2 separate regions of the Homo sapiens genome follow, and region 2 is linked to region 1. Evidence: fine-mapped expression QTL. A gene starts in region 1. The other region holds a variant in brackets. All regions are shown on one strand. Distances are between the middles of the regions. Region 1 holds the start of MCOLN2 (mucolipin TRP cation channel 2). Region 2 overlaps MCOLN2 (mucolipin TRP cation channel 2).

The links. PIP is the estimated chance that this variant, and not a neighbour inherited with it, causes the effect.
Region 2: its variant is fine-mapped to the expression of MCOLN2 in whole blood (TOPMed, PIP above 0.99).

Annotation. Positions count from the first base shown.
Region 1 is chr1:84,993,762-84,999,135 of GRCh38, reverse strand. MCOLN2 (mucolipin TRP cation channel 2) reads left to right here and starts at 2,023. Exons shown (of 14, transcript NM_153259.4): 1 at 2,023-2,340. The coding sequence starts at 2,264. RefSeq lists enhancers at 289-1,160, 3,481-3,540 and silencers at 1,731-2,020, 2,631-2,680.
Region 2 is chr1:84,928,180-84,933,553 of GRCh38, reverse strand. It overlaps MCOLN2 (mucolipin TRP cation channel 2), which reads left to right. Exons shown (of 14, transcript NM_153259.4): 12 at 1,986-2,192; 13 at 3,875-3,996. Among named protein-coding and RNA genes, the nearest start is that of LPAR3, 38 kb to the right of the region's middle. The variant C/G (reference allele first, on the strand shown) is at 1,951.

The DNA.
Region 1 (5,374 bases):
GTCTGTGGCCTGTTAAGAACCAAGCCGCGCTGCAGGAAGTGAACATTGAGCAAGAGAGCAGCGGTTCCACTCGATTCTCATAGGGGCAGAAGCCCTACTGTGAACTGCGCATGCGATGGATCTAAGTTGCAGGTTGTGTGCTCCTTATAAGACTCTAATGCCTACTGATCTAAGGTGCAACAGTTTCATCCCGAAAACATCCTCCCCTCATCCCCCCACCTGTCCGTGGAAAATATCATCTTCCATGGAACCAGTCCCTGGTGCCAAAAGGTTGGGGTCTTACTATGTTGCCCAGGCTGGAGTGCAGTTACTATTCACAAAGCTGGATGATTGCGCACCTCCGATGAAAGGGGCTCAAAACCAAGGCATTTCTGCCTAATAACCCCTTGGAAGTGCCTTAAAAGAGGGTCAATTATGTGTGCTTTTATATACATCGTCTGTCCAACTGCTTCTGCCTGGACACGCATATTAAAATAATTACCTGGCAGAATATTCTTTGCCTGAGCTAAACCCGGAGATCTTTTAAACGCTTGCAGACTCACAGAGCCTGGCACTGCGGACTTTGCTGCTGCTACCTCGTGAAAAGGAGGGGTACGAGCTCTAGGAGGCTGTCGGCCACGTCCAAACTACCAAGCTAACATCACTAGGAGCCGAACACGGCTTTTGGTCATGTACTGACGACTCTCATCTCTAAGATTCACGAACGGCGACCGATTGTCTGTTCGATTTCCCACAGGCGTCTTCCTTTCGTGCACCAAGAGGGAAAAGCAACGGCGGCTGCAGCAGGGCGCTGGGGTTACGAGTCCAGCCCTGGGGCCGTGCGCCCTCCCTCCGCGCCCGCCGGGCCACGCTGACGCTCCCTCCCGGCTCCCTGCCTTTCATCCCGACGCGGGCGCAGGGCAACTCGCTTTTCCTATTCCTTGCGCGCCGGTCGCACTTTCTAACATCTCAGAAATATGGCCCTTGTCACAGACTTTCATGATCGTGCACTTTAGAGAAAAGCCAGAATGAATGAACTTGTCAGTTTAATGTGAAGTCCTCAAGGGAAAGGACCATGTCTTTGTCATCCCAGAGACCACAGTACCCAACGGTCGGCTTGGCTCTCAGTGAGTGTTTCCCTAAGCATCAAAACAGGAATGACCAAAGCAACGGACAAATTAATGCATGTGGAAACAAGAAATGAATGCATGAGAGAGTGAAGAAAAGAAGGGGCCAGGCGCAGCGGCTTACACCTGTAATCCTAGCACTTTGGGAGGCGGAGGCAGGAGAATCGCTTGGGTCCAGGAGTTCAAGACTGCAGTCAGCAGTGATCGCAGGTCAGGCGACAGAGTGAGACCCGGTCTCACCACCACCCCCCCGAAAAAGGCAGGAACCCCAGAGGGCCGGGAGTGCCAGGTGCGGCCGCCCGGGAGCGGTGTGGAGGGTGCGTGGGCCACTTTGCCGCAGGGCCCACCGCCCGGGTCCCTCTGTAAGGCGCTTCTCCGGCAGACACCCCGAGCCAAAGCGGGCCGTACCGCAGCGTTGGGCACTTGGGTGGAGAGTGCAAGGGCGGCGGGCCTGCGCCCAGACAGGTGTAGCCGTCCCACGCTAGGTGTCCTCCTGCCGCTCCCTGGCCGCGCCATGCCTCGAGGCATGGAGGTGCTGGACCTGCCGGTGTGCAACCGCGCCTCGGGCCTGTCCTGGGGGCCGCACCACAGGTCAGTGCCCCACGGCGCCCTTGGCGTGCCCCACGCCTCCCTGGGGGCCCCACCGCCGCCCCCTTTTGGGACTGCTTACTTCCTCGGCTCTTCTCGCGCGCGCCTCGGTTCCATCCCCTACGGCCCCCACCCCGCCTCCGCGTCGCCGACCCCCTTCTCCGGGAGCGCGGGGAGGCTGGTCCGCTGAAGCGTGGAATAAGTCCCCTAGGACCCCAACTGGGGAAGCTCCGGTCCCCGGTAGGAGGCGGCGGGGCGGGGCGGGGCGGGGCAGCCCCTTGGGGGCGGGGCGGGAGCGCCTGGCCACGCGCCGCATCCTGCAGGGTGCACACAGAGCCGCCTTTCAGCCGCCCGAGAACTGCCCGCCGCACTCCACGACTGCGGCGCCTGCTCTCGGGCCGGGGTCTGCGCGCACCACGCGGCCGGCAGAAAGGGTAAGAGAAGGGAACCCCGCTTTGCAGGGCTCCAACTTCGGCGGACGCGTTACGGCGAGGGCGAAATGAGTCGGCCGTGAACGGTGTTTCCTGTTCCGAATCCCGAGAGCCCTGGAAAGTTTTGAAGGAGGAGGCATGGCCCGGCAGCCTTATCGTTTTCCCCAGGCAAGGATTCCGGAGAGAGGATCAGGTGTTTTCAGGTTAACCGTCAGGTGAGGAGTCTGGGCTTCATCTTTCAGGATGCTGGACTGGAGAAATCTTCCTAAAGTCGATGGCTTTACTTTCGTAGACTAGAGCTTGCTTGCTGCCTTGGGAATGCTTATATTAACTGCTTGCAGTTAGTTAAATAAGGCTAGGCTGTGCCTTCCAGAACAAACAGGCCTTTCCCTCAGGTGGGAGGGTTGTAGTGTGGCTAACCCCAGTTCCTCGGCCTTTATGAAAAGGCGCACAGTTCAGCCGGTTGGCGCTGCCAGCGGGCCCCTCCTCCGTGGTCAAACCTCCAGCCACCCCAGCACAGTTGAGCCAAAGTTGTGAGTACAAACAGACCTTGGCTCCCCCGTTTCCTGCTCTCCAAACATATATATATATATATATATATATATATATATATATATGAAATATATACGTATGTGTAAGTGTGTGTGTCTCTGGTTGAACGGTACTTGTGGGAAACAAAATTGTGTGTCATTGTAAACTGAGAATGGAAGAAAAGGTTAGTAAGAGAAAGGTGGGAGAGGTTTCTTATGGGTGTCAGGATGTAGACTCTGATATTTTATGTAGAGGGAACCAACTACGTAGTTCTCCCCAGAAATGGGATGTGGGTTTCACTCTCAGGAGCTGCTCATCACCTTTGTGATGTGCTAACCAAAATCGCACAACTTTTGGGAAATTTGATAGCTTTCCCCTATTGAGTCAGAAGTTTCTTGAGACTTTAGCCTGTCTTCCTCTTCATACCTTAAGAGGAGTCAAACTCCCGTTGCCGTGAACTTTCCACAGGCACACCCTTCTCCTTTAGAAAACCGTTCATAGGTCAGTTTCTGTGGCCGGAACTCTAAAAACGACACATTTTCCATACAGAGGCCATCATAATACCAATTTTATTTAACCTCCTGTAATAAAAAATGAGTGAATCCTAATAAAGTGTTTGAGGTAGCCACATTCTTTTCTGTGAAGGAGGAACATATCAAAAGTGTTTTTTTTTAAAAAAATAGAGTAATAGATATAAAATATTTTAATGAAGCAAGTGAGAAGAACTGAGAGACATAGTTTGAGCAAAGGGGCACGAAATACAGAACTGAAAGTCAAGAATGATCATATTCACAAGCTGATCTCTTTGGCTATGTCTCTGTCAGTGAAGTGAAACCTAGAACAAGACAATTTTAAAACCGGCGGAAAAAGAGATGGCTTCTTGTGACTATAGCTTTCAAAGTAAAAGTAGTGGCCAAAGAAAACTCTTCTGGCTGTAAAAGTAAAAGTGGACTTTCCTGAAGCTGGGCTGTTTTCTTTAAGGCCTAGGGTCTAAGTTCCGTGTGTCAGTTCTGAAGAATTAAATCACTCTTTAGTGAGCTCTTGTGTCACATGTTAAGGGGTTCATAGAAAAAAGTGCAGGCATACCTTGTTTTATTGTTCTTTGCTTTATTGCACTTTGTAGATACTGCATTTAATTCAATTTTATTTTATTTTACAAATTGAAGGTTTGTGGCAACCCTGTGTCCAGCAAGTCTATTGGTGCCATTTTTCCAACAGCATGTGCTCACTTTGTGTCTCTATGTCACATTGTGGCAATTCTCTCAATATTTCAAACTTTTTCATCATTATTATTATATCTGTTATGGTGATCTGTGACCACTGATCTTTGATGTGACTACTGTAATTGTTTTGGGGTGCCATGAACTGTGCCCATATAAGACAGGGAACTCAATTAATAAATGTTGTATGTGTTCTGACTACTCCACCGACCAGCCATTCTTCTATCTCTTTTCCTCTCCCCAACCCTCTCTATTCCCTGAGACACCACAATATTGAAATTAGCCCAACTAATAACCCTACAGTGGTCTCTAAGTGTTTGAGTGCAAGGGACAATCACAGGTCTCTTACTTTAAAGGTAGGAGTGATTAAGCTTAGTGAGGAAGGTATGTTGAAAGCTGAGACAGACCAAAAGCTAGGCATTTTGTGCCATTTAGCCAAGTTTTGAATGCATATGAGATGTTCTTGAAGGAAATTATAAGTGCTACTCCAGTGAAAATACAAATGATAAGGAAGCAAAACAGCCTTATTGCTGTTATGGAGAAAGTTTTTGTGGTCTGGATAGAAGATCAAACCAGCACCAACATTCACTAAAGCTAAAGCATAATCTAGAGCAGGCCCAAACTCTCTTCAATTCTGTGAAGGCTGAGAGAGGTAATGAAGCTGCAGAAGAAAAGTTTCAAGCTAGCAGAGGTTGGTTCATGAGCTTTAAGAAAGGAAGCCATCTCTATAACATGTAAGTGCAAGGCGAAGCAGAAAGTGCTGATATAGAAGCTGCAGCAAGTTAGTTGGAAGATGTAGCTAAGATCATTGATGAAGGAGGCTACTCTAAACAACAGATTTTCAATGTAGACAAAACAGCCTTCTATTGGCAGGAGATGCCATCTAGGACTTTCCTAGTAGAGAGGACAAGCCAGCATCTGATTTCAAAGGTGCAAAGGACAGGATGACTCTCTAGTTAGGAACTAGTACAGCTGGTGACTTTTAAGTTGAAGCCAGTGCTCATTTACCATTCCAAAAATCCTAGGGCACTTAAGAATTATGTTAATCTACTCTGCCTCTGCTTTGTAAATGGAACAACAAAGCCTAGATGACAGTACACTTGTTTACAGCATGATTTACTGAATATTTTAAGCTCATGGTTGAGACCTACTGCTCAGAAAAAAAGATTTCTTTCAAAATATTACTGCTCATTGATAATACCTCTGATCATTGAAAAGTTCTGATGGAGATGTACAAGGAGATGAATGTTGTTTTCATATATGTTAACACAACATCCATTCTGCAGCCCATGGATCAAGGAGTAATTTCAACTTTCAAGACTTATTATTTGGCCGGGCGCGGTGGCTCACACCTGTAATCCCAGCACTTTGGGAGGCCGAGGCGGGTGGATCATGAGGTCAGGAGATCGAGACCATCCTGGCTAACAAGGTGAAACCCCGTCTCTACTAAAAATACAAAAAATTAGCCGGGCGTGGTGGCGGGCGCCTGTAGTCCCAG
Region 2 (5,374 bases), 66 kb after region 1:
TTGTGTAGCGTATGGAAAATATTTACTCTGGCAATCGCCTGTTTTACTGTTAAATAATCTACATATTGTTAAGTGATCTGTTCATTTGGATATTTCCTCTAGGTCTTTTTGGAGGAGGACTTTAGTTCATCAGAGTTTTTGCTGATGCAGCAAAGCCATGGGTGGGATCCTTGTTTGGGGTGCGTTTGTAGACCTTCTCCCTTGGCCACCAACTTTACCTTGCCTGGTCCAGCCACGTGGCTGGTAGTGTAAGGCACGGTGTTTGTATCTAGTTGGAGTACAGGGAAGTGTGTATAAAAACAATTAGAAGACCATAGTTCATTCTGTGATTCTTACCGATACGGAGTGCAGAGAAAGGACTAGAACTACCAGGGCACTTGGTCTTGAAGTACACTCTGAAATGACCCTTGAACATTGGCTTAATTGGACACAGAGAAGAGAAAGAAGAATAGAGCAGGTGAGGAGAATAAATTCCATGAGGGAAAAATGTAGGGATGGGCCTGGTGTTGGAGGAGAAGATAAGCACAGCATATTAATACTGTCAAGGAGGAGATGTGATGAGGCTGCATAAAGGAGGAACTTATCACAACCTTCTTGGTTTAGATTTTTATTTTGCATCCAAACTTTGTATAATCTCACAAGGGAGAAATGACCTGAAAGCCTTCTTCTTAAAGTACAGGTTTTACTGCAGCTTTGACTGGGGAGGGTAAAGAGATTGGAGTAAAAGAGACTTCCTTGGAAGTTTCTTTAATAATTCAGAAATTTGTGTTGACATCACAGTAGAGTAGTAAGGGTGGATTGGAGAAACATGTGATAGGAACAGACAGGCCTTAGAAGACTGAAAGCGGGGAAGAGTAATCAATTCAACACAGAGTTTTAAGGACTTAATTATTTCAGAGTAAATGTTTCTTTGGTAGGAGATTGGAATCACTGACAGAAATAGGGCAATTTAGAAAAAAAAGTTCATTTTTCTGGTTAGGGTGGTGAAAAGTTTTGTTTTGTTGGCATTTTCAAGGAATGGTCTGTTATATAACAAATGCCAGCTGAGCACAGTGGCTCATGCCTGTAATCCAAGCACTTTGGGAGGCTGAGGTGGGCGGATCACCTGAGGCCAGGAGTTCGAGACCAGCCTGGCCAACATGGTGAAACCCCATCTCTACAAAAAAATACAAAAATTAGCCGGGCTTGGTGGCAGGCACCTGTAATCCCATCTATTTGGGAGGCCGACACATGAGAATCGCTTGAACACTGGAGGCAGAGGTTGCAGTGAGCTGGGATTGCACTGCACTCCAGCCTGGGTGGCAGAGTAAGACTCTGTCTCAAACAAACAAACAAAACCTACAAATGCTCTCTAAGTGTAGAAAACATAAGAAGATGCTTATGTTAATTAGGAGAAAAACCAGGATCTAAACTTGTTAGATCCTGGTTTTAGATATATAAAAAGTACATAGGGAAAAACTGTGGGAATTGTTAAGAGATTAACTTTGAGAGTATGGAGGGGTGTGTGTGTGTGTGTGTGTGTGTTTTAAAGAGACAGGGTCTCGCTGTGTCCCCCAGGCTGCAGTGCAGTGGCAGAAGCTTGGCTCACTGTACCCTGAACCTCCTGGATGCAAGAGATTCTCCCACCCCAGCCTCCTGAATAGCTGGGACTACAGGCATATCACCATGCCCAGATAATTTTTGTACTTTTTGTAGAGATGGGGTCTTGTAATCTTTCCCAGGCTGGTCTCAAACTCCTGGGCTCAAGTGATCCTCCAACCTTGGCCTCCCAAAGTGCTGGGATTGTAGGGATGAGCCACTGTGCCTGGCCCAGAGGGGGTTTTTGAATAATGTTTTCCTACTTCTTATGGTGTTCTAGCATCTTAAAATAAGTAAGTTACCACTACTACAATGACAAAAACAATGTTAACAAAACAAGCTAACTAGATATCCTCTGCTTTTTAGAATACT[C/G]TATTTCAGAAACTAGTTTTTATTTCCCCCTACAGTTTGAAAATCTGAACACAGTTGCTGAGTGTCTGTTTTCTCTGGTCAACGGTGATGACATGTTTGCAACCTTTGCCCAAATCCAGCAGAAGAGCATCTTGGTGTGGCTGTTCAGTCGTCTGTATTTATATTCCTTCATCAGCCTTTTTATATATATGATTCTCAGTCTTTTTATTGCACTTATTACAGATTCTTATGACACCATTAAGGTAAGTAATTATCAAAATTTGCTGCCAAAAAATCACTGCAAATTCTATATAGATTATAGGAAAATACCACATTTTAAAAACTTAAAATATTACAGTTCAGATTTTGAGGTTTTGTGGACAAACTTTTTAGACGCTGGAGATGAATTTTAGGGCATTGTCCCTGTTACCCACAGCAGGGTGGATTGGTTTGGAGGGGTGGTGGGAAAGAAAAGGGAAATGGGGTAAGCATGGGTTGAATGGGGTAAGTCAGGTAGTCAGGCTGCTGGTCTTAGCCCTGACAGATATACCTGCCAGTGTGGCTGCCTGGAACTTAGGATTGAGTCATAAGTTTCAGGGATGAGAGGTGACCGGCACCCTGACAACTCTCAGATATTGCTACAACTCACACTGGATAATACAGCTACTGGCATGGTGCAGGCTTCCTTTAAATTATGAAAACTAAGGCTTTTGTGACTGTTTAGCTTCCTGCTTTCTTAAGCTACCTGATGGGTTCTGTATCCTTTCAGACTAGGCCATTTAACTGATTTGTGGCTTGAAGGAATTTCACTTCCTTGGGTGCTGGTACCTTATTCACAGCAGATGGTCATGCTTAGAAAACCCTGCTTCAGGGTCAGTGACTGAAAAACCAGGGGTGCCATGCCAGTGCCTTTGTCAGGGCTGTTTTCTGCTTAACCACTTTCTCAGAATAATGCAGAAGAAACCCAGTCCGCTACCTTTTGAGTGTGTGGGAAGATAAGTAAGTGTTCAGGTGGGAATGGTAGTTGCCTCTCGCATCAGGGTTTGCATGGAGAAGGAAGAGGTGCACACTCCTGCCACAGAGATTCATGTCTTTGATGTGGCAATGTCTCTGCGTGGTGGGGGCCAAGCCTCAGTGTTGAAGTAGGTTATCTCATTAAGCATGAGGGGAGGGAGTCTTTGTGTCTGCTTGGAAAAAAATCTCTCTTCTGTTCCACTAAGCGACCAACTTCCATAAAAGTAGAGGAAATAATGATTACTTTCCAAGCAGAGTCTACATTGCCAATGTGTGTGTGGAGTGGGAGGTCTCATCTAGTCTTGCTGTTAGCATTAAAAGTTTAGACTTTTTTTTTTTTTAAAAAAAGAGAGAGGGTCTTGCTCTGTTTCCCAGGCTGGAGGACAGTGGTATAATCCTACCTCATTATAGCCTCCAACTCCAGGGCTCAGTCGATCCTCCTGCCTCAGCCTCCAGAGTAGCTGGGACTACAGGTGCACACCACCATGGCCAGAAAATTTTTGTATTTTTTGTAGAGATGGGGTCTCACCATCTTGCCCAGGCCAGTCTCAAACTCCTGGGCTCAAGCGATCCTCCCTTCTTGGCCTCCCAAAGTGCTGGGATTACAGGCATGAGCCATCATACCCAGACTAGACATTTGACTTTTGATTATTTCCTTCATTACCTTTTTTTTTTTTAAAAAAAACCTCTCCCTGGCTCTTCTCTGCTTTCTTTCTGAAGTTTTTCTTTGGATTGTTCTCTGTTCCCACAGTGGCCCTGCCTTGGTGTTCTGGGACTGACAGATTGATTCATCATTGTAAATATCAGTTCTTGGATCTGAGCTAGCAATGTGGGAGAGTTTTATTTTAGCAAAGGTGGGCTTGGTTTGTTGACAAAAGAGCAATTTCTCATGCCTTATAAATAAGGTAACAACATTGTGTACTTTCTAAAGAAATTCCAACAGAATGGGTTTCCTGAAACGGATTTGCAGGAATTCCTGAAGGAATGCAGTAGCAAAGAAGAGTATCAGAAAGAGTCCTCAGCCTTCCTGTCCTGCATCTGCTGTCGGAGGAGGTCAGTATCATGTTTATTCTCCATGCTCCTGAGATGGGCTGTTCTGTTGTCTTAAGAAAGAGCCCCTCCAAGATTACCATTACATTCAGAGACCAGCTTATCATGGGAAATAATTCACCTTTCTTTTCTTTCCTCCCACTGAAATTGGCTTTAGAAATGAATTATTTCTTCTAAAACAGGGTTATGTAGAAAGCTACACGATGTGATTGGAATCTCTTAGAAATACTATAAGACTCTTAAGAGAAGGCATAAATTATGTCCTTAAAGTCAAGAGGCTGAACTCTTAAGTGGCCCAAGTAAGAGGTCAAAGCTCTTATTTTTAGAGGTGAAACTCTGGGAGTGTCAGAGGTGTTTTCCCTTTTCACAGTATGTGGTACAAGCAATCTTTCTTGATGAGAGCAGGAAACTTCCTTGCGAAGAGGCTGTCCAAGTGCTTGCTTATCCGTGCACACCAGTAGCTCTTCCTTGCCTAGCTGTGCTTTGCCTGTTGTTCGTCAGGACATGTAGAGAAATGGTCTAGACCTCAGTGGACAAAGCATATTACATAGTGATTTGTGGACTAGAATGGGGTCAGGTGAAGACAATTTTTTTTTTAATGTGCCTATGTTTGCTTTCATCTGAAGTCAGGGGTGCCAGTTTGTAACTAAAAGTATACCCTACATATGTTTTTTCTTTTTGGAAGGACTCTGTAACCCAAATTCCTGAAGGAAGCTATGAGAACATAATTGCTATTTAAAACCACAGGATGCATTTTTCTGTTAATCAATTCATACAGCATCTTGGGACTTACAATGATATGACTGAGCAGATCCAGAGAATGTCTGGTAAATAGAAAATGAGATCTGAGAAGAGTTGTTTTCAGAATCACACCTTTTTTTCTCAGAGCATTAAATTGTTGCTGTGAAAGCTGGGATAAAGGAAATTAATTTTCTTAATAGGCAGCTGCCTCCTAAGAGGTACCTTGTATAAGGAAAGTCTCTCAAAATCTCTTTTTTACTATAAGGGGGATAAACTTCATTGAAAAATGTAGTCATGAATTCTAAAAAGTAAACGATAGGTCTTTGGTGTTTGGACCTTGGTTTGTGCCACACAAAGTCCTGGGAGGTTGTTAAATGTTTTGTCATGCAGCCCTATGGAACAAGTGAAAGATTTAAGGCGTGGACCCCAAGACGTTTGGGTAAGATTGGGTCTGAGTGGTGAGACGCAAGGAGCAACAGCAGCAGACCATTTGCCCTAAAGTGTGCTGAGGGTTGTTGAGAAGATGCATGGTGAGACGGAGGGTCTGCCCCTCATGAAGAGTGAAAGAATTTGAGGGAACAAGAGAGCCCACCAAGGAGATCAACTGAAGAACTAGGATGATGAAAGTTTTGAAAAAGAG